Homo sapiens: one gene and its partners. The protein of the gene in region 2 interacts with the protein of the main gene of each other region in a pairwise test. Each region holds a gene or a part of one and is shown on either strand. Other genes may lie near its edges. The genes, in order: VGLL3, CTRC and GIPC2.

The links.
Region 1: the proteins of CTRC (region 2) and VGLL3 interact in binary tests that used the Homo sapiens proteins (3 or more experiments, as listed by UniProt).
Region 3: the proteins of CTRC (region 2) and GIPC2 interact in binary tests that used the Homo sapiens proteins (3 or more experiments, as listed by UniProt).

The regions. Positions count from the first base shown.
Region 1 is NC_000003.12:86,988,102-86,996,138, forward strand, and holds the start of VGLL3 (transcription cofactor vestigial-like protein 3), read right to left. Parts: upstream 3,049-8,037; 5' UTR 2,643-3,048; coding exon 2,517-2,642; intron 1-2,516. UniProt on the Homo sapiens protein: May act as a specific coactivator for the mammalian TEFs.
Region 2 is NC_000001.11:15,434,056-15,441,446, forward strand, and holds the start of CTRC (chymotrypsin-C preproprotein), read left to right. Parts: upstream 1-4,387; 5' UTR 4,388-4,409; coding exon 4,410-4,449; intron 4,450-6,244; coding exon 6,245-6,336; intron 6,337-6,437; coding exon 6,438-6,535; intron 6,536-7,391.
Region 3 is NC_000001.11:78,048,966-78,055,965, reverse strand, and holds part of GIPC2 (PDZ domain-containing protein GIPC2), read right to left. Parts: intron 1-7,000.

The DNA of each region.
Region 1 (8,037 bases), on a different chromosome or scaffold from region 2:
GAAATTAGTTGACAGATACACTACTACAATTGAATACAGAAGTAATATAAAACTTTAATGCTGTCTTTTCTAGCATTTTTTAAATGGCTATTAAAATTTCTTGATTGCTGTTACTTTTCTTCGCTCCTTTTCCATTTTTTCCTTCTCCAAAAATCAATTTTTCAAATTCAGTAGGAGTTGTAGCCCTTACTTTTGTCTCCCAGGCAAGATGCTATTAGGGGTCACTTCCCATGTACGGAGAAAACAATCTTCATGGATAATAATGATAAAACCTTATGGAATGCAAAAACAACCAAAATATGTATTCTCGGATGACTGCATTAGGGCCAAGTCAATATTAGTCCCACTTCACCCACGCATTGCATAGTCTAAAAATGCTGTCAGCCTGATAAGAATTTCCTGATTTACTCTCTTTTCCAATAGAAAATGTAGGTCATCAAAATAAACTTCTGACACTAAAAGAACAGTAGTTACACTGTCAAGTCTTTTTTTTTTTATTTCGTTAGCCAGTTATGGTCAAACAGTTTCTTTACTTGACCAAAAAAAAAAAAAAAAAAAAAAAAAAAAAAAAAAAAAAAAAAAAAGAAGAAGAAGAAGGAGAAGAAAAAGAAGAAAAAGCAACATGAAAATTTCCAAGCACCTCCCTATGGCTCACTCAGCCTAACATCTAGTTAAGCAATGTCTACAAAAGCCCAAAATATAGAAGTTGATCATTATGTAACCAATCAATGTAGATAAATTGTTTTCTTTTTAAGAAGCTCAATGGTCAGAGTTTTCCTGATTTTTATTTTATTTTATTTTTTACTTTTTAAAATTGTTGTCTTCAGTATGTTGACGGTTTTAGCAAAAGAAATGAATTTGGGGACCGAGTCTCAGGGCTATTGCAAACATTATATAAAGTACTGGAGTCATTTCTTATTGAAAACTTTTATGATTGGCAATTTGCCATTTTCTCTGATACCGAATGTTATTTTCTAGCTCAAAAAAAAGTGTTACAGTATTAACTCCACACCACAGATTCATTAATTTCACAACCCTAAAAAATAAAGCCATATTTGAAACAACTTCTACTAGTTTGTTATTTTATAAAGGAGGAAAGTATCTTTCTGAACATGTAGAGAAGTTTTAGTTTGTTGCTCATCCACATTCCAAATGATAATTGAAGACCTCTGTAATATCAGAGATGCTTTGAAATGCTGGTGCTGCTGAATATTTTTTTTAAGAGGATAGCAAGAAAGTAGGGCTCCTTCCTCTTTTGCCCTAATTGGTTCTGGTTAAGCTGGTACTATTTAGCAGATGAATCTGGGGCATGTACCCTTCCAGAATTAGCTGAATTTCATAGTTCCTAAATTCTAAACGGAAAGTTAGATTTCTTTCTAAAGAGTAGCACTGTAATTCTAGCAAAGAGACAGAAGTAGAGGAAATACAGAAAGTAAAATGTCAGATTAATTAACAGCCCAAACCTAAGAAGGTTTGCAATAAAACATGTGGTACCTAAGAAAGTAAAAAGAAATAAATCAATATATTCTATGGATGGTAATTTCCTAACCAAATCTAGTTATTTTTTTTAAGTTTCTCCAAATCCGCCCACCCTAATTCCCATAGTCTGAGGTGGACTCTATTTTGGTACAGCCCTTGCCACATACATTTTTTATTTTAATGTAGCACTAACTAAGCCTTGGCACACTCTCCGTTGTATCCAGAGAGTAATGTCCAAGGGCGCCTCGTGCCAAATTCCCCAGAACTCTACTGTTCCTTCTAAAGTAACTATATCATCTCCTCAGTTCACGACCCCTTATTATGGACATCTTCAGTTACTCTTGGAAGAGTGGAGACTCAGCATCCAGAGATTCAAGGTAACCTTTTGGCCGAGGGACCCACTGTCAACAGACTGAACACGTACAAACTCTGTGCTTTGCTGGAATTAAAAAATGAATGAAGAACCTTGGAATCCATCCCTGTCCTCTAAGTCACAGTCACCGGGAGAAAGATTCTGTGGAGAAGTTCTAGTAACACCCGATAGACATTATGCTAGACCAGTGTTCCCCCATGAAAGTCCCAGATCATTTCGTGAACTCACTCTCCAGGTAGCTTCCCCTACCTCTGTCAGCGCACTTCATCTTCCTCATCAATAAAACCCTGAAACATTCCATCTTTCCAAATAAACAAAATAGTTGGTTGAAAGGAAGTTTACTCACATGGTCCTAAGATAGATGCCCTTGGTGAGCTTCAGAGAACTGAGTCCTAAGAGCTAGGGTGCCTAGGAGGAGCAGCCTCTGAGCTCCGGTGACCACAGCTCAATGAAGCCCCCAGCTAGGTCATGCCTCACCCACCCGTCCACCCTGCTGCTCTCCCTTCCCGGCTCTCTCGGGATGGCTTTCTGCTCAAGGACGCTCCCGCAGATCCCAGAGCATCCTCTGCGCCACGCGTGCCGGCGGGACGTCGCCGAGCCCCAGACCGATACTCTCGATGCCCTTCGCCCCCGCCCCCAGCAGGCTGCCCGTCCGGTGACTCACCTGCTGGCCAGGTTGGGGCGCCGGCTGATAGTAGGCTGTGGGGCAGGTTGTCGCTGCCATGGGGTTGGGCAGATACTGGGACGCTCCATAAGGCTGGGGGTGATACATCACCTCCGCACAACTCATGGCAGCCGGGGCAGTGGCGGCCCCCGAGCTGCCGCCGCCGCTCTACGCGCTGGCGCGAGGGGCGCGGGCGCCGCCGCCGCCGCAGCTGCCGCCTCTGTCGCTGCTCCAGCTGCTACTGCGGCGAAGGCGGGTCCTCGGCGGCCTCGGGCTCCGCGCGGGGCGCGGGGTCGGGAGGGACTGGCAATCAGCGGGGGCCCATGCGCGGGCACCTTCATCTTCAGCCCCTCCGGATGTTCCCTGCCGCGCTTATATAGCGGCTCAGGGACGCAGCCGCCCGCTGCGCCGCTGGGGCATTACCGCGTCCGGCTCCCGCGAGGGCTGCGGCGCCCACGGCAGCGCCAGTCACAGCCACAGCCCAGGCCCGGGTCGGGCAGCCGTGGGGAGCCCAGCTCCGGTTTGCATATACACAATGCACGCCCGGGGCTCGTCCTATCACGGGTGCTCCCGGCTGTGCGAGGACAGGGAGGCGGGGGCAGAGGGAGGGGGAACGCCGGGGAGAAGGGGGAGCACTTTGCCTCCCCAGGCTCTGACGCGGAACTTTGCAAAGTTTCTCCAACTCGCTTTGCAGCGGGCGGGTCACCCTGCAGGGGGACCCCGGGGAAGGCTGGCTGCGGATTGGAGCGAAGTTTGCAGCCCTCTCCGCCTCCCAGCATGGGATGGTGGTGGGAGGGGAATGGTATGCAGAGGCTCCGCGCCCTCAAGGCTCGGCAGGTTCCCACCCTGTCTCTGTCACCTGGCCGCCAGGGCGAGGGCTTCCCTACTCCAAGGAGATTTTACAGGGAACACCAACTCAGAGGCTGGGACCAAACAAAAGCCGAGTGTACAAAGGGGTAAAACAGAGCAGGCGCAGAATACACGGGGATTAGCTCCTACATTAAAATAATCATAAGTGAAAGTTAACATCTCTGCAAGTGCCCACATGCCAAGAATGCAACACAGTTTTCCACAAGCAATCTCTGCTTTAAGTTTACATCTTCATGGTATGACACTGCTGTGAGACGTCCACCATTTCTGGCTTTTACAGCCTGGTTTTCACAGAGCAATAAAGGGTAGTTGATTAAGCCCATTCGCTAATAAAGGTTTATCTCTTTGCAATTGGATCTGACCCTCTCCAAAATGGGGAAAAAAACGTCTGTGAGAATATACTTGTATTCTGACATAATCAGTAGAAATAATTATACTCACATTATTTTATTTATTTTGAGATAGGGTTTCCTTCTGCCGCCCAAGCTAGAGTACAGTGACATGAGCACAGCTCACTGCAGCTACCACCCCCACGCTCAAGAGATCCTCCCATCTCAGCCTCTGGAGTAGCTGGGACTACAGGCGTGCATTACCACGCCCAGGTAATTTTTTTAATTTTTTTTTTTATAGAGAAGGGGTCTTGCTATGTTACCTAGGCTGGTCTCCAACTCCTGGCCTCAAGTGATCCTTCTGCCTCGGTCTCCCAAAGTGCTGGGATAACAGGCATGAGGCACCGCACTGGGCCTCATTTTATAAATGAGCAAACTCTAGCTCTGAGATTCAGCAAACATATCTCTCCTTATACGTAGGCATCCTCTTTTATGACTCACAGCAATCTCTCATTTTTACAGTCTATCTTTTCTCAGAGAAAAAGTCAGTTTGAAAGTCAAATGCACTAATGTTTTTATAGTTTGAATTATGTCTTCCCAAAAATGTATATATTGAAGCCCTAACCCACAATATGGCTGTATTTGAAGACAGGACATATAAGGAGGTGATAAGGTTAAATGAGATTTAAAAGGTTGGGCCCTAATCTAATAGGACTAGGTTCCTTATAAGAAGAGAAAACACGCCAGAGATATCTATGTCTCCCCCAAACCCCACTCCCTGTCTCTCTGCTCTGTCAAAGAGGAAAGACCATCTGAAGTCATAGTGAGTTACCTACAAGCCAAGAAGAAAGGTCTCACCTTGAAACCAACACTGACCACACCTTATCTTGTGCTTCTATCCTCCAGAACTATGAAAAAATTAACTTTTTTTTTTTTTTTTTTTTTTTGAGACGGAGTATCGCTCTGTTGCCCAGGCTGGAGTGCAATGTCACGATCTCGGCTCACTGCAACCTCCTCCCGGTTCAAGTGATTCTTCCGCCCCAGCCTCCCGAGTAGCTGGGATTACAGGCACCCGCCATCATGCCCGGCTAATTTTTGTACTTTTGTAGAGACAGGGTTTCACCATGTTGGCCAGGATGATCTTGAACTCCTGACTTCAGGTGATCCGCCCACCTCGGCCTCCCAAAGTACTGGGATTACAGGCGTGAGCCACGGTATGCCCAGCTTAATTTGTTTTTTTAGGCCACCTAGTTTGTGGTATTTATGACAGCCCTAGCACACTAATGCAGATATACAGTTATCATATATCGTTAATGTTTACATAAGTGTCTGTGTGTATGTCTAGGTACACAGATACATACACATGTATAAACACACAGGCATACACACACACACTGACACTATAAAAATTGGATAGGAACTTTTTGCTACGCCGCAACAGCTTTTATTCAATCATTTTATCACTGAATATTAAAAACATATTTATTAAGGGTTTGCACAGTTCTTGGACTTTAAATTGTGCTCTTTGTAGTACAAGAGTATTTCCAGCAATAATATGTTTCATAATTTACTTTAAACGTTTATTATTGTCTTTTCCCAAATTGACCTCCTTTGATCAGATCCCTTCCTGTGTTCCAGATTTATCTATTCAGTTCTTTCTAGGTAGCTCCACATAGGTGTTACATAAGGACCTCAATCCTAATAGTACTGATTGTCTCATGTCCCCAGTTTGATCCTCTTTTTTAATCTTCATCTCTACTGAAACTCCCCCACTACCAGTTGTCCCAGCTAGAAATGTGGGAATCTTCTGGCACTCCTTCCTTCTCCTCACAGTCCCCACACCTGGTCTTGGAGTCAAGTTGACCCCAAATTTTCCATTTCTACTGACTCTCTCCTTATCTCTGTTGCTATAATCGTTAGTTTGCTCGGCATCTCTCACTCAGACTCCTGCAAGAGACTCTTAGTGATTTCCGGGTCCCAAGGCGAGACTTCTTCCTGTTCTTCATAGTTTATACTACTCTTTAATGACCCAGCCACTGCAAATCCAACTGTGCAATGATGATTCATTCTTCTTTTAAAAATTTCACAGTCACATCCCGCAGTCTGTAGAAACAACTCTTTAACCTTCAGATTCTGATCCCTGCCCATGTCACTACCTCCTGCAAATGTTTACCAGCTATCTGAATTGAGATCTGCATTCTGCGAAGAAGCCGTGGTACTTTCTACCAGCATGTCATTTTACATATGAGCAGAGCATTTGCACCAACACATCCCTCACCCTCTTCACTTGTTAACTCCTTCTTGCTCTTCATGTAATTGTCTTCCAAAACATCCGATGAGGATCAGCTTTAATGCTCCTATTTTCACCAGCTCTTGTTCTTTTAAGAATACGCTCCCATCATACTAATAATTAACTACTTGATTTGAAGTTGCTTATTTGCTTGTTTCCCCAATATGACCATGGCTGCTTGAGAGGAGAGACTGTGACTTTTATCTCTAAATTTCACTAAATTTCAATCATATGATATCTGGCTTAGTAAATATTCTTTGAATAAGTAAAGTATATAATAGGAGGAGAAACAAAAACTATTAGAATAACTTACAAATTCTTGGTGGGATCTGAGCACATATAAAATCAGTGAAGCTATAATGTAGAATATGATTTCAAACTCTGTCTTAGGCTTTCTGCTGTATGTTAGATTGAGAAAATCCTTATGATGTTAAAAAAAAATAGGACCTAGAATATAAAGTGACTGAATTAGGACACAGAGCAAATTTGTGAGGACAGCCACTTCTCAATGCCAAACCTCCTGTTCAAATGTTTAATGCCTCCAACTTTTTTCAAATAACTTTTATCTGTAGTTGATTTTTTTGTACAATTATGAGTTTAATATCTGTCTTTTTAGCTAGACTTTGGCAGAGGTTATTTATATCTTGTTCATCTCCATATCTAACACTTCGAAGACATTCTATATATATTTTCCAAATGATAAAATAAAGCCAGAACTTGATTCAACATGTCCATACCCCTCATTGCTGCATCTTCCGTGCTCCCTATGGCCTCTAGTGCAAATATTTATTCTATGACAAAAAAAAGTTATTTGGTACTAATACGTCATGGACACAAAAGTCTGTAGGTGTTTGGCAAAATCTTCCTACAATGCAATATCTTTTTTGATACCTTTCTTTGTTTCTATATTGTGTACTGCTGGAAGAAGATAAGAGAGTAAAGATTAATTCTACCTAGACTTAGAATCTACAGAAGTGGACAGAGAGAGAAAATAGCTTGTCAAAGCCTGCAGTCTTAGTGAGGTCATTAATAAAAATTCCGATAATTCATGTTAGGGAAATCTACATTTGAGTTCTAGTAGGAAAGCAGATGTACCTGACTTCCCCTGGGTAACTATTTAGGGTTTTAAAGTGGAAAATAATAAAAAGGATCATCAAGCTTAAAACATCCTTTTTCATAGATAAGTAAATATATGATCTGATTAATGTCTTCTAGGGAACTAGTGGCAGAACTAAAACCAAAGTCCTGTTTCTCTTGACTCTTGATTTAGTTCTCTTTCCATAATTGCATAATAAAGATATATAAACAAATACATATGCATATGTATATGCATACATACATTATACATGTGTGTACATATTCCTAGATATTACTTATGTATGTGTGTATATATATATTATATATATAATATATATTATACATATATTATATATAATATATATAATATATATTATATATAATATATATATAATATATATTATATATAATATATATATATACACACACACACACACACACACACATACATATACAAAGGAAGAAGTTTTTGATCAGATCGTCCTTGGGTCAACTTGGAGTTGAAGAAGAGGAGTGTGTGTATGGGGTGGGGATGCGGGCCAATTGCATTTAGCAAGAGTGAGTCACTCAGATCAGAGAATGTGATCTGACCGCTGGTGTACTCATTGTCGTCTCTGCTATGTAAGGGTGTCACAATTACTTGGAAAAAGCAGCAATGGTATGGAATTTAATTCTATGTAGTTCTGAGCTAAAGTTCCTCAAAGTTTACCCTTCTTTGATTTATCCTTTTACACTACTCCACCGCTTTTCTGGTTCAATTCTGATGTGGTACCTGATCTAAATAAATGGACTTAAACATTTCCAACTCTTCTGAATTGTGACTTTACAGTCACTACATTTTTGCCCCCACCACCAAATTTCTCAAAATGTTTGTTTCCAAATTCTCCAACTGGAAATTAGTGAGGTGAACCACCCCCCGCCTCTAGTTTTATTTGGAGGGATAACTTGAAGTGGG
Region 2 (7,391 bases):
TTTTTCATTTTTTTATGTTTTATTTTTTGGAGTTGGGGTCTCTCTATGTCACCCAGGCTAGAATGCAGTAGCATGATCATAGCTTACTGCAGCCTCAAATTCCTGGCCTCAAGTAGTCCTCCCACCTCAGCCTCTAGAGTATCTGGGACTACAGGCATGTGCCACCACACCCAGGTAATTTTTTAAATTCTTTTAGAGTCAGGGGTCTCGCCATGTTGCCCAGGCTGGTCTTGAACTCTTGGCCTCAAGGGATCCTCTCACCTCAGCCTCCTGAGTAGCTGGGATTACAGGCACGAGCCACCATGCCCAGCCAGTTTTTAATATTTTTTAAATGGAGAAAGGGGCCCATGAAGGCAAAAGTACTCAGTGACCAAGTCCAGTCTCAAGCTTTCTCATAAGAACCAGATAACAACAATAATAATAGTAATAGCAAACATTTAGACCGTCCTTGCCATATGCCAGGCACTTCTTCCAACAGCCCTAGGAGGGAGGTACCATTTTCTTTCTTTTTCTTTTTATTTTTTTGAGACGGAGTCTTGCTCAGTCACCCAGGCTGGAGTGCAATGGCACGACCTCGGCTCACTGCAACCTCCGCCTCCCGGGTTCAGGCAATTCTCCTGCCTCAGCCTCCCGAGTAGCTGGGATTATAGGCACCCACCATCATGCCCGGCTAATTTTTGTATTTTTGTACAGACAGGGTTTCACCATGTTGGCCAGGCTGGTCTTGAACTCCCGACCTCAGGTGATCTGCCCACCTCAGCCTCCCAGAGTGCTGGGATTACAGGCATGAGCCACCGTGCCCGGCCAAAGGTACCGTTTTCACTCTCACTTTATAAACGAGGAAGCACAGAGAGGTTGCGTCACAAGCATAAGGCCATAGAGCTATGAAGCAATAGTGGTGGGTTTAGTTCAACCCTAAGCAAAGCACTCAACATCCTGTCTTCAGCATCTGAAACAGATTAAGGGCGACCTCGGTTTTCTCCAGGGACAATTGTTTGGTGCTGCCTTACATAAAAGGTCCCTCCCTGTAGATGTCTCAAAACAAGCAAGTTTCCCTATAGCTGAGCAGCCAGCAACCTCCCTCCAAAAAGGTCAGTTTCTCTGTGAACCTTCAAAGAGCTGACAATAACTCTCTTCACCTGGGACCTCATCATCAATCCATTTGGCTATTTCTATGTTTGTGTACATGTTTGAATGGGTGGCCCATGGCTCTGCTTGGCTCTACACATAACCGAATGCTTTATATGTATTATATCATTGGTGTGTGCATATTTGTGGACGTGGAGGAGCGTGTGTGTGCATGTGTGTGTGTGCGTGTGTGCATGTGTGCATATGTGTGTGTATGTTTGTGTGTGCATGTGTGCGCGTGGGTGTGTGCATTGTGTGCATGTGTGTGTGCGTGTGTGTCCATGTGTTTGTGTGCGTGTGTGCATGTGTGCATGTGTGTGCATGTGTGTGTGCATGTGTGTGTGCGTGTGTGTGTATGTGCGTGTGTGCGTCGCCTGTCCACGTATACTTGTGAATCCATGGGCATGTATACACAGCTGAGATGCGTGCTAACAAGTTGCTGTATCTCTGAGTATAAATTGATGAGCTCCTACAAGGAGACGCCCAGTTAATTCATTTTCCCAAGTTGATCAAGGGACATGAGAGAAACTGAGGCTCAAAGAGGTTGCTCAGGGTCTGGGTCATCCATTCTGTCACTGAGATGGAAACCAGGTGTCCTGTCTCCCCGCTTCAGACCCTGCTAATTTCCAAGACCTATCACCTAGCTCAAGCCATATCTCTGCTTATGTTCCCAGTTTCCAGGCTAGAATGACCCTTTGCAAGGCTTGGCAACCAAAAGCCCTGGGTCTGAAGCAGACTGGCCAGTAGCCACTGATAAACCTGTATCATGCACAACCAACCTCCAAAATGAAACAGAAAATTCCCCGCAGGCTGAAGTCCCCAGACACCCCAGGACTGAGGCCTTGATGTCACCATAGCTGAGCAGAGCCCCCAGTGCACATTCCCACTTTTATCTTTCTTAAAAAATTAAACCTATTGATTTTTATACTACCAAGGTAACTATGTTTGTTTTAAAAAAGAATTTAAGCTGCATAAAAATGTGTAGTTAGAGGCCAGGCATGGTGGCTCACACCTGTAATCCTAGCACTTTGGGAGGCCTATGTGAGTGGATCACTTGAGGTCAGGAGTTCGAGACCAGCCTGGCCAACGTGGTGAAACCCCGTCTCTACAAAAGGAACAAAAATTAGCCAGTGGCACTGGTCCCGGCTACTCAGGAGACTAAGTAAGGTAGGAGAATTGCTTGAACCTGGGAGGCAGAGGTTGCAGTGAGCCAAGATCGCACCACTGCACTCCAGCCTGGGCGACAGAGCGAGACTCCAACTCCATCTCAAAAAATAAATAAATAAATAAACAAACCAGCCTGGCCAACATGGTGAAATCCGGTCTCCACTAAAAATACAAAAATTAGCCGGGCATGGTGGTGGACATCTATAATCCCAGCTACTCGCGAGGCTGAGGAAGCAGAATTGCTTGAACCCAGGGGTGGAGGTTGCAGTGAGCTGAGATCGCACCACTGCACTCCAGCCTGGGCCACAGAGCAAGACTCTCAAAAAAAAAAAGTGTAAGTTAGAATCCTCCTTCACCCCCAGATCACCGCTATGAATGGCGGGGTGCGTAGTGCTCTGAACTTTTCTATCAGGAAGGAATTCCTAAGGTGGCCAGTAGGCCCAGCTCAGAAAATGACCTTCAAGGGGAGCTCAGTATGAGTAGAGGGGAAACGAAAGACAGAATCTAACCAACCAGGCTGAGGCCAGGCCTTGGGGCGAATGGATCAAACCACATGTTCCAAGGGATGGCCAACCCCGAATGCCGGAGGCTCTGGTAGAATTTCTGCTACTCAGTGCTTTGGGCCCTCAGATCTGCCACTGACCTTGACATTCAAGTTACAGAATTGTAGAACTGAAAGGAGCCTGAAAGTCCATCTGGTCCTTTTGCCCATTTTAGAGATGGGGAAACTGAGGACCTACAACTAAGCTGACTCCAGGAAGGAATCTGGCCAACTAAGCACCTTCCAGAGCCTGCTGCATCCCTGCCTCCAACCACAGCCCTGGAGGCAGGTGCAGGAGTGCATCAAGCCCAGGCAATTAGAAAGATGAGACAGAGAGAGAGCCAGGAAGCGATCCAATAGCACTAGAAAGGCAGAGAAGGAGCAGCATGTCTCCACAGCTTGAAGCCCCAGGCTGGTGTTAGAAGCTTTGGCTTCAAAGTCTGGCTCTGCTGCTGCCCAGCCGTGTGACCCTAGATGGTCACTTACCCGCTGAGTCTCAGCTTCCTCACTTTTATTTTATTTTTTTAGAGACAAGGTCTTGTTCTGTCACCCGCGCTGGAATGCAGTGTGGCACGATCACGGCTCACTGCAGCCTCGAACTCCTGGGCTCAAGCGATCCTCCTACCTTGGCCTCAGGAGTAGCTGGGACTACAGGCATGCACCACTGCGCCTGGTCCTTTCTCATCTCACCTCAGAGCAGATAACCGCGTCTATTTCATGTTGTTGGAAGAATTAAGTGAGATAATGCAAGAAGAATTGAGCGCAATGCCTGACACACAGTAGGTGCCCAATAAATAACTAAAAAGAATAAGGTAACGGCCTGTAATCACACCTGTAATCCTAGCACTTTGGGAGGCTGAGGTAGGCAGATTGCCTAAGCTCAGGAGTTCAAGACCACCCTAGGCAACAGGGTGAAACCCTGTCTCTACTAAAATACAAAAAAAAAAAAAAAAAAAAAATGGTGGCACACATCTGTAGTCCCAGCTACTTGGGAGGCTGAGACAGGAGAATCGCTTGAACTCGGGAGGCGGAGGTTGTAGTGAGCTGAGACTCCAGCCTGGGTGACAGAGCAAGATCCTGTCTCAAAAAAATAAATAAAATACAAAAGATTAACCTGGCGTGGTGGCAGGCGCCTGTAGTCCCAGCTACACAGGGGGCTAAGGCACGAGAATCGTTTGAGCCCGGGAGGTGGAGGTTGCAGTGAGCTGAGACTGTGCCACTGCATTTCAGCCTGGGCAACAGAGCAAGACTCCATCTCCAAATAAATAAATAAATAGTATAAGGTAGGGAGAGAGAATGAACACACACGTCAAACAGAGTGGGGTGGGGGATGCCAAAAAGCACTGCAACTCAGAATTTTCTGTTTCAGGATATTTGGAAAATCCATACTTCTAAGAAAGCCCTGTCTCCTGCCCAAATTAAACAGTAACCACCCAAGGTCAGGGAAAGGGCCTTATCAGAGCAGGTTTCTCTCCAAGGGGCGGTTTGGCCTTGACCAGGTGCACTCACCTGCTCCTGCCTATAAGTGTGCCCCAGCCCATCCCGATGGTCAGCCAGTCCTGAGCACCTAACCATGTTGGGCATCACTGTCCTCGCTGCGCTCTTGGCCTGTGGTAAGCGGTGGGGTGGGGCTGCAGCTAGCAGGCTGTGAGCTCGGGCTGGCCTCCAGGGCAAGGACGGGATGGGGAGTGGGGGGGCCTCTGCTCTCCAGGTAAGACACTTTGGGGTCCCCTGTGGGTTCAGATGCTACCAACCAGCTGTGTGTCAGACAAGCCACAGCCTGCCTGCCAACTCTGTTTCCACATCTGCAAAACAGGGAAGATGATCTGACGTGTCCCCAGTTAGAAATGAGGTGTGGAAAGCACCACGCAAGGGGGAGGGACACGAGATGCCTCATCCTGGGTTCACCCCAGGGACCATCGGGGTCTGCCTTTCCCAGCATTCTCTCTCCCTTGAGGATTCTCCATTCCATCATTTTGGTGGCGTTTTCCCAGATTAGGAGCCCAGGGACTTAGCTTAAATGCCACTTCTTCTCTGCAGGACCTGGAAAAGTCATTTCACCTCTCTAAATCTCACTAACTTTTTTGGCAAAGGAGAGCACTTAATGAAGAGTCCTTCCAGCTAACAACAACAACAGTAATAATAGCAGCTCCTGTTTCCTGTGTGTTTACTATGTGCCAGACGCTATGCTAGGCCCCTTACATGTAGGAGCCAATTTAATCCTCAAAACAACCTTAAGAGGTAGGGTCTATTGCCAGGCATGGTGGCTCACGCCTGTAATCCCAGCACTTTGGGAGGCCGAGGTGGGTGGATCACTTGAGATCAGGAGTTTGAGACCAGTCTGGCCAACAAGATGAAACCCCGTTTCTACTAAAAATACAAAAATTAGCCAGGCGTGGTGGCGGGCACCTGTAATCCCAACTACTCAGAAGGCTGAGGCAGGAGAATTGCTTGAACCCAGGAGGAGGTTGCAGTGAGCCGAGATCGCGCCATCAAACTCCAGCCTGGGCAACAAGAGTGAAACTCCGTCTCAAAAAAAAAAAAAAAAGAAAAAGAAAGAAAAAGAGGTAGGGTCTTTTCATAGCCCCATTTTACAGATGAGGACATCGAGGTTCCGTGCGACTTAGTATCTTGCCTGACATCACATGGCAGGTTAGTGGAAGAGGCAGAATTTGAGTCCACGTCTGTCTCGCGGAACAGCACGTGTTCTTGACCGCTCCACACAGCTTCCCAGCTATAACAGTGGATTTACTGCTCTCTCACACACACACCATGATGCAGGGGCCTAAAAACAGACAGAAGAACACAGGTGTACCGGGCACTCGCACACATGCCAGCCAGTTTTGTTTTGTTTTGTTTTGTTTTTTGAGATGGAGTTTTGCTCTTATCACCCAGGATGGAGTGCAATGGCACGATCTCGGCTCACTGCAACCTCCATCTCCCAGGCTCAAGCGATTCTCCTGCCTCAGCCTCCTGAGTGGCTGGGATTACAGGCATGCACCACCACGCCTGGCTAATTTCTGTATTTTTAGTAGAGACAGGGTTTCGCCATGTTGGCCAGGCTGGTGTCAAACCCCTGATCTCAAGCGATCCACCCGCCTTGGCCACCCAAAGTGCTGGGATTACAGGTGTGAGCCACCGTGCCCGGCCAAACGCTTTCTTTTTTATGTGTTGTCTAATTCAGTTCTCAGGGCAAACTCACCGCATTAGTGTGATTCTTCACATTTCACAGAAAGGGAAAACAAGGCCTAGAGACCTGGGTGGCTTACCCCCGTGACACAGTAAAATATCAACCCCGTGTCTGCCCAGCCCCAACTCTGTGCTTCTTCCACCTGCCCACCCTCCCACCCCTTTCCCCGTGGGCTACCAGCCCTATTCACTGGTTCTTCTGGCCTCCTGTCTCCCCAGCCTCCAGCTGTGGGGTGCCCAGCTTCCCGCCCAACCTATCCGCCCGAGTGGTGGGAGGAGAGGATGCCCGGCCCCACAGCTGGCCCTGGCAGGTAAGCCTGTGTAGGGCTGGGAGGTACAGATAGAGAGGGTGGCGGGGTGAGGGTCCCAGGGACCTGCAGGCTGACACACAGCCCTCCCCACCCTCCTGCAGATCTCCCTCCAGTACCTCAAGAACGACACGTGGAGGCATACGTGTGGCGGGACTTTGATTGCTAGCAACTTCGTCCTCACTGCCGCCCACTGCATCAGGTGTGCGGGGATGATACCCTGAGACCTGGCCATCGTCCGGGGGCGGAAGCCTGATACTCTGCTTTTTCTGAGCAGCTTCTCCGCACTCCAGGCACTGGGCTACATAATCTACTCACACCCAGTAACTCAGTTGTGCATTTAGTCAGTCAAGTATTCATTGTGCATCTATTATGTGCCAGGAACCAGCAGTGAAGACAAAGTCTGTGCTCTCGGGAAGCTTATATTTTTGTGGAAGACAGAGCGGCAGACAATTAAACAAATATATAGCATCTCAGGTGATTTAAAATAATACTAATAATAAGGTATTGGCCAGGAGCAGTGGCTCACGCCTGTAATCATAGCACTCTGGGAGGCCGACGCAGGCGGATCACCTGAGGTCAGGAGTTCGAGACCAGCCTGGTCAACATAGTGAAACCCCGTCTCTACCGAAAATACAAAAATTAGCCAGGCGTGGTGGCGGGCACCTGTAATCCCAGCTACTCGGGAGGCTGAGGTAGGAGAATCACTTGAACACGGGAGGCAGAGGTTGCAATGAGCCGAGATGGCGCCACTGCACTCTAGCCTGGGCAACAGAGTGAGACTCTGTCTCAAAAAAATAAAAAATAAAAATAAGGTCAGAAGAGGACAAACAGAATGAGGGGTTCAGTTTTAAAAGGGATGGCCAGGGGAAGAGCTGAAAGGGGGATATTTGGCAAATATTTGGGACATTTCGGAGAGCTAAAAGGGGGTTATTTGGGCAAAGGCCTGAAGGAAGTGAGGGAGGAAATCATGGATCTAGGAGAAGGGTGTTCCAGGCGGAGGGAACAGCCATGCAAAGCCTTGGAGGAGAGACCTGTCAGTATGGTTGAGAAATAAC
Region 3 (7,000 bases), about 63 Mb from region 2:
CAGATAAAGAGAACAATGCATAAAGGTCATAGAGAACGGAAAATACTTTCGTTTTCTAAACAGGCCATGGAAGGTGTCTGCCATTTACGTTCCCCTAAATCAAGATGTCTCAGAATATCTACCATGTGCATAGCTCTCTCCTGCAGGACTCCTTATCCACTGCTCACCTACCTCTGTACCACATGACCCTGTAGGCTGGAGCAGAGATGAACCTGACCCACAGGCCCAAGGGTCCTGTCCCACCTGTGCTGTACCCTGACACAACAAAGACTCTTTCTTAGGAAGTTTAATAAGATACACAGGCAGGGCACAGAAAGTAGAGAGGTAAAGAAACACAAAGACACAGTGGGGTGAGGTAATAATGGGAGGAGCAAAGTCAAGAGGATGAGAAGAAAGAATCAGTCAAAAGTAGAATAAGCAGGGAGAGAGAGAGGCTGAGATGGAAGGTTAAGGACAACTAGACTTGCTCTCAGTTCTCTACAGTATAAAGCTACTGCTTTAACCTGAACAGAATGAGCAACGTTCCAACTGTCCATGGAACCTGACTGTGCAGCTGCAGAAGCTGTCCTAAGCTTCCTTACCTCCCTATACATTTTAATATAAATATTTATATGGACTGAACATGTGTGTGTCCCCAAGCCTAATCCCCCACCTCCTACCAGGTGACGGTATTTGGAGGTGGGGTCTTTGGGAGGTGACTGGGTCATGAGGGTCAAGCCTTCAGGAATAGGATTAGTGCCTGCATAGAAGAGGCCCTAGAGAGAGCTCCCTTTCCCCTTCTGTTACATGAGGATGCAACAAGATGGCTGTCTATGAACCAGGAAGTGGGCTCCCACAAGATACCACATGGCCGGCACATCAATCTAGGACTTCCCAGTCAATAAATTTTTGTTGTTTAGAAGCAACTCAGTTTTTGATAGTCTGTTACAGCAGCCAGACAGACATATACATACATACAAATTGCCCAAGATAACCTGCAAGAGCCTTCCACTCCACTCAGGGTAGCTGGGTTGGTGATTGCAGGTGGGAGAATGTGAAGGGGCTGGCTATTAACCTACAGGTAGCCAGGGTTTGAAGAGGAGTCTACCCCTGCCCAAGGGTGTAAACTTTATTTTAGGGTTGTTCAGATATCTTCTTCAGGGTACTTCTAGCACAACAGCAGTCTTATCCATTTCATACCCTCCTGACAGCAATGAGGTCTATAAGGCAGCTGGTTGGATTCTCCTCCCACTTCTCAAAATGAGTCATGTTTTTCTTGCCTGAATTTTTCATATAAAAATGAGGCTGGTGCTCAGGAGGGGATATCAAGCCTACATAATGACTGTGATATATTTATAACTTCTCAGATGGTATGATGTAAATCCAGAAAATACCATTATATTCCATTTAAACTGAATATTATTTAGAAAGAAAATACAGAGAATGAATGGTTGAGTGTGCTTCTACTTTGTAAAATATGTGTCAGGGATCCTTGCTTCTTCCGAAAAAGATCTGAGTTATTCTCATTGCCTACAGAATAAAATCCATACAACTTCAAGGACATTTGTAGTCTTACTACTATCTATATCCTCAGCTTTCTCTCCTACTATATCCATTATCTACTTTTATTTAGTAAACTTTTAAGGAGCAGCTAAACCATCTAGCTAACCATCTAAGAACAAGATTTAAAAAGGAAAAAAGTCCCAGCCCTCAGGAAGAAACAGAGGAGTAACTAAATTCAATCTTATGTGCAAATGCTATGTTAAAAATCATGCAATAGCAGGTATCCAGATTTCTGGATTCACAGGGTAGGCTTCTTGGAGGAAATTACAGGACTAGAAAAGTGAGTAGGAGTTACTGGAACAAAGAACAGCATGAGAAAAAGCACAATGGAATGAAACAGTTAAATATTGTTGAATGTAAAGGGGATTATTAAGAAGTGAGATTGGAACAGTGGGCATAGGAGAGGACTCAAGAGGCAGACAGGAATATGAGACATTGTTTGGCTGGTAGTAATTGGTTTGTAAGTAATGAGGAGCCCCTTGCAGGTTTTTGTTTGTTTAGACAGTCTTGCTCTGTTGCCCAGGCTGGAGTGTAGCAGCACAATCATAGCTCACTGCAGCCTCAAACTCCGGCTTGAGTGATCCTCCCACCTCAGCCTCCTGAATACTGGGACTACAGGTACGTACCACCACCTCTGGCTAATTTTTTTTTTTTTGGCTTTTTTTTTTTTTTTTTTTTAAGAGGCAGGGTACCACTATGTTGCCCAGGCTGTTGTCAATCAAACTCCTGGCTTCAAGGATTCTCCCTTCTCAGCCTTCCAAAGTGCTAAGATTAGACTGGTATGATCACAGCATTAAAATACTAAAAGAGGATGAGTGGAGTCAGGGAAACCAAATTCAGGCTGCCTCTTTAGAATCTGCATTGTAATAACCCAACAGTGACAAGTGACAACTGCCAACACCTTCCAGGCAAAGACCACCAGGGATTCTCACCTGCAGTTTATTGCTCCTTGTGAGGAGGGTGACAGCACTCTATGGGAAATCCTGGGGGTTTCAGAAAGAGACATTACAAAGGATTTGGGCTTGTGTTAGGTGATTTGGGAGAGGGTCCAAAGCATGGGTTTGTTCTGGATAGGGTGCTGTCAGGAAATGGGTGCAATTCTATGACCAGGAATCTTAGTAAACCTATCTGTAAGGTAGGAGAAATTACCACAGTCAGAGCAGTCTTATCTGCTGTTGACATGCTGTGCAATTGTTTATGTGCAACAGAATGCCAAGGCCTTCCTGCAAGTGCCAAGGCCCCTACCAGATGTCAGGGACTGCTTCTCACACTTTTTCTACTCAATTTTGACGGGCTTACTTCATATTCCTCAGACCTCAATAGTAATATTCACACCCAATTCCCAATTCTTTCATTTTTTGTAGATTTTTGTAACTTGTTTTTCCAGGGCAGGGGGTGCTATATGCAAATCAGTAAAACCCTATTTTCTCTATTCGTCCTAGTTTCCCATTTGTGAACCAGAAAGATAACAGTTCCACTTGCCAGTTATTTGCACTGCTGGGAAATGATAAAGTCTGCAGAACATTTCATGTCTTCTAGAAGTACCACATAAATACAGAATATTGACTTTCAAAAGAGCTCAGTGCTAGTGTCAGCAAGTTGAGAAAAGGAAGCAGCTTCTGGGAAGCCTCAGGAAGCAGCTCCTCATATGCTGTAACTCATTTAGGAAGTGACTATGCTTGCAAACAGAGCCTCAAATTTCATAGTTTCTAAGATGGATATATTAATTAGCTTGACTGTAATAATTATTTCACTATTTATATCAAAACATCGTGTTGTATACCTTAAATATATACATTTATTTTCAAAAAATTTTAAAGATATGAGTGATGTTCCTCACTACCCCCACCTAAAGGCTAGTCTCTTTCCTCATAGCAGAACATAAAAAAAATTAACACCTACATAAGATATTAGTATTGTAATCAATACTAAAGCTTTATGCTAAAGACACTAGGTTTTAACTACTGAATTGGTGAGGATCCTTTTATTCAACAACTATTTTTTAAACTCCAACTATAATATGTTTCAGGCAAAGTCTAGGCCCTTGAGGGCCACATCAGTAAACAAAGACAAAAATCCTTGCCTTTGTGGAGCTTCTATTGGGGCAAGGGGGCAGACCATAAACAAAATAAGTTAAATATACATAGGATAGTATGCTACGGAGAAAAATTAAGCAGAGAAGGGAACAGGGAGTGTTGCACCTAGAGATGATCAGTGCTAGCCTCACCAAGAAGATGACATTTGAACAGACTTAAGGAAGGGCATTCTGTAGGAAGAGGTTCTGGCGGAGGCAAAAACCAATGCAAAAGTCTTAAGGCTCCAGCATTCAAGGAGACCAGTCTGGCTGGAGCAGAAGGAACAACGATTCTGAAGAGGTAACAGAGCCCGTAGCCCATCATAGTATTTTGGTTTGTTCCAAGTGAGAGGGGAAGCCATGAAAGGTTTAGAGCAGAAAATGAGATACAAATTGTATCTCAGAGACAGCAACTTTTGAAGAGTTTTGCTAAAAAGGAGAAATGAGGTGGTAATACAGGGGATGGGAACAGGTGTCAAAAGAAGGTTTGTCTGTTTAAGAGAAATAACAGCATGCTTGTGAGGATAAAATCTCACCTTAAAAATCACAATTCTACGCCAGGTGCGGTGGCTCATGCCTGTAATCCTAGCACTTTGGGAGGCCGAGGCAGGCAGATCACCTGAGGTCAGGAGTTCAAGACAGGCCAACATGGCAAAACCCCGTCTCTACTAAAAATACAAAAATTAGCTGGGCATGGTGGCATGCACCTGTAGTCCCAGCTACTCAGGAGGCTGAGGCAGGAGAATCACTTGAACCCGGGAGGCAGAGGTTGCAGTGAGCCGAGATCACACCACTGCACTCCAGCCTGGCAACAGAGTGAGACTCCATTTCAAAAAAAAAAGAATAACACTTCTTGCCTTTTCTGCTTCTCAAGTACTCTGCTTTCTTTGACTGCTTTATGTATGGGGAGAGAATAAGTCACTGAATTACTCATTTATTATTCAATGAACTATTTGGTATCTAATATCACACGCAAACTAATCTAAACAAGTAAAAGGAAGTAATTTCTGAATTCTGCAGAGAAACTGCATCTGAATTTCCAGTTTCTGGACATGTAAAATTTCTAACTATAAAATTTATCTTTTTTTTGTTAATAATATTTCTTTGTTATTCTTTTAATGTCCAAGGATCAATAATGATGACATCATTTCTTTTTTTTTTTACATTTTACAAAATGAATGTATTGAGCAAAGTGGGGTTCTTTTTTTTATTATACGTCTTTTCTTAAGTTTTCACATTCATTATTTTTTCCTACAATATTTCCACATAATAGAGAATTAGGAAAATATATCATGGTAAAAACTACTTGCCAAACAATTACAGTAGTCAAATATTCAAAATGCCCCTTCAACAAAATGTATGACCATAGCTCGAGAGTTTCATGTAACCTGGATATTTTAAAAGATGGTATGTATTGGCCGGACACGGTGGCTCACGCCTGTAATCTCAGCACTTTGGGAGGCTGAGGCGGGCAGATCACAAGGTCAGGAGATCGAGACAATCCTGGCTAACACAGTGAAACCCTGCCTCTACTAAAAATACAAAAAATTAGCCGGGCATGGTGGCAGGCACCTGTAGTCCTAGCTACTCAGGAGGTTGAGGCAGGACAATGGCATGAACCCAGGAGGCGGAGCTTGTAGTGAGCTGAGATAGCACCACTGCACTCCAGCCTGGGCGACAGAGCGAGACTCCCGTCACAAAAAAAAGAAAAAAAAAAAAAGATGGTATGTATTAAACTTTCTCAAGAAGAGTCTTTGCATTTATGTAGGAGTTAATTGTTCTTTAGATGAGATTAATTTACAGGGTTTTTTTTCTTTTTACTGAATTGTTCATTTAATTGTTTTGAAAAAAGGCATCAGATATGAGGGATTTTTGCATAACTGGCCATCTGTCTCAACTTAATAACAAATCTTAACTGATTCACAGCCTTCATTAGCTTATTCCTTCAGGGACCACAAAACACTAGCTGAAGTCCACAACTGTCAGTCTCACATCAACATCTTTTTGAGGCAATAAATATTTTTGTGGTTAAGTCTGAGGCTTTTATTGAAAAAAAAAATTTGTTTACAAAAGACGTTTTTCCAGGTTAGTGTTTAGAATTTGAATGCAGCTACCAAGAATCTCACAGCTGCTATGTAATAGACTTGGAACCGGCCAGGTGCAGTAGCTCACGTCGGTAATCCCAGCTCACTTTGGGAGGCCGAGGTGGGCGGATCACCTGAGGTCAGGAGTTTGAGACCAGCCTGGCCAACATGGTGAAACCCCATCTCTACAAAAACACAAAAATTATCCAGGCATGATGGCGTGTGCCTGTAATCCCAGCTATTCAGGAGGCTGAGGCAGGAGGATCACTTGAACACAGAAGGCGGAGGTTGCAGTGAGCCACGATCACACCGTTGCACTTCAACCTGGGCGACAGAGCTAGACTCCATCTCAAAAAAAAAAAAAAAAAAAAAGAGGTTTTTCTGGGTTCGTATTTGGAATTTGAATGCAGCTACCAAGAATCTCACAGCTGCTATGTAATAGACTTAGAACCAGGAAACCAGAATTCAAATCCTGGCTCAGCCACATACCAGCCTATTTAACTTCTCAGAGTCTCACTTCACTAAATTGTAAAATGAAAAGATTCTGGTGAGGATGGAGTGAACACACTGTAGGCTTACAGGCCTAGCACAGCTGTGGGCACATTATGGGCCCTGATTATCTGCTCCACTTGACATCAAGTCTTTTCCCTTTCTCCTCAATAAAGAGTGGCTAGCTCTTCATGTAGTGCTATTTATATCCTTACAGCCACCACTCTAGAAAAAAGGCAGGACTTCTGAGTTAACTATCTATTCAATCCCATTAAGGGGGGCAAATGTTTTTGTCCCCACTGACATCTCAAAAGTTATTTACATCACAGGGCTGGGCGTGGTGGTTCACGCACTTTGGGAGGCCGAGGCGGGCAGATCACCTGAGGTCAGGATATCAATTCAAGACCAGCCTGGCCAACATGGTGAAACCCCGTCTCTACTAAAAACACAAAAATTAGCCAGGCATGGTGGTGCATAATCCCAGCTATTAGGCAAGCTGAGGCAGGACAATCACTTGAACCCAGGAGGTGGAGGTTTCAGTCAGCCAAGATCGTGCCACTGCACTCCAGCCTGGGCGACAGAACAAGACACCATCTCAAAAAACAAAAACCAACCAAAAAAAGTTGTTTACATCATTATTGCTGAGGTAATTGCTTGCTGGGGAAATGGGCTATGAAAATGGAATCTCCTTGGTGTGCATTTCATTTTAGTGAGTTACTTCTGTTTCAGAGTGAACCACTGAAATATTATGCGTACTATGCTATGATGACCAATACTTTATTCTGCATATAATTAACTTTTTCTAATCCAG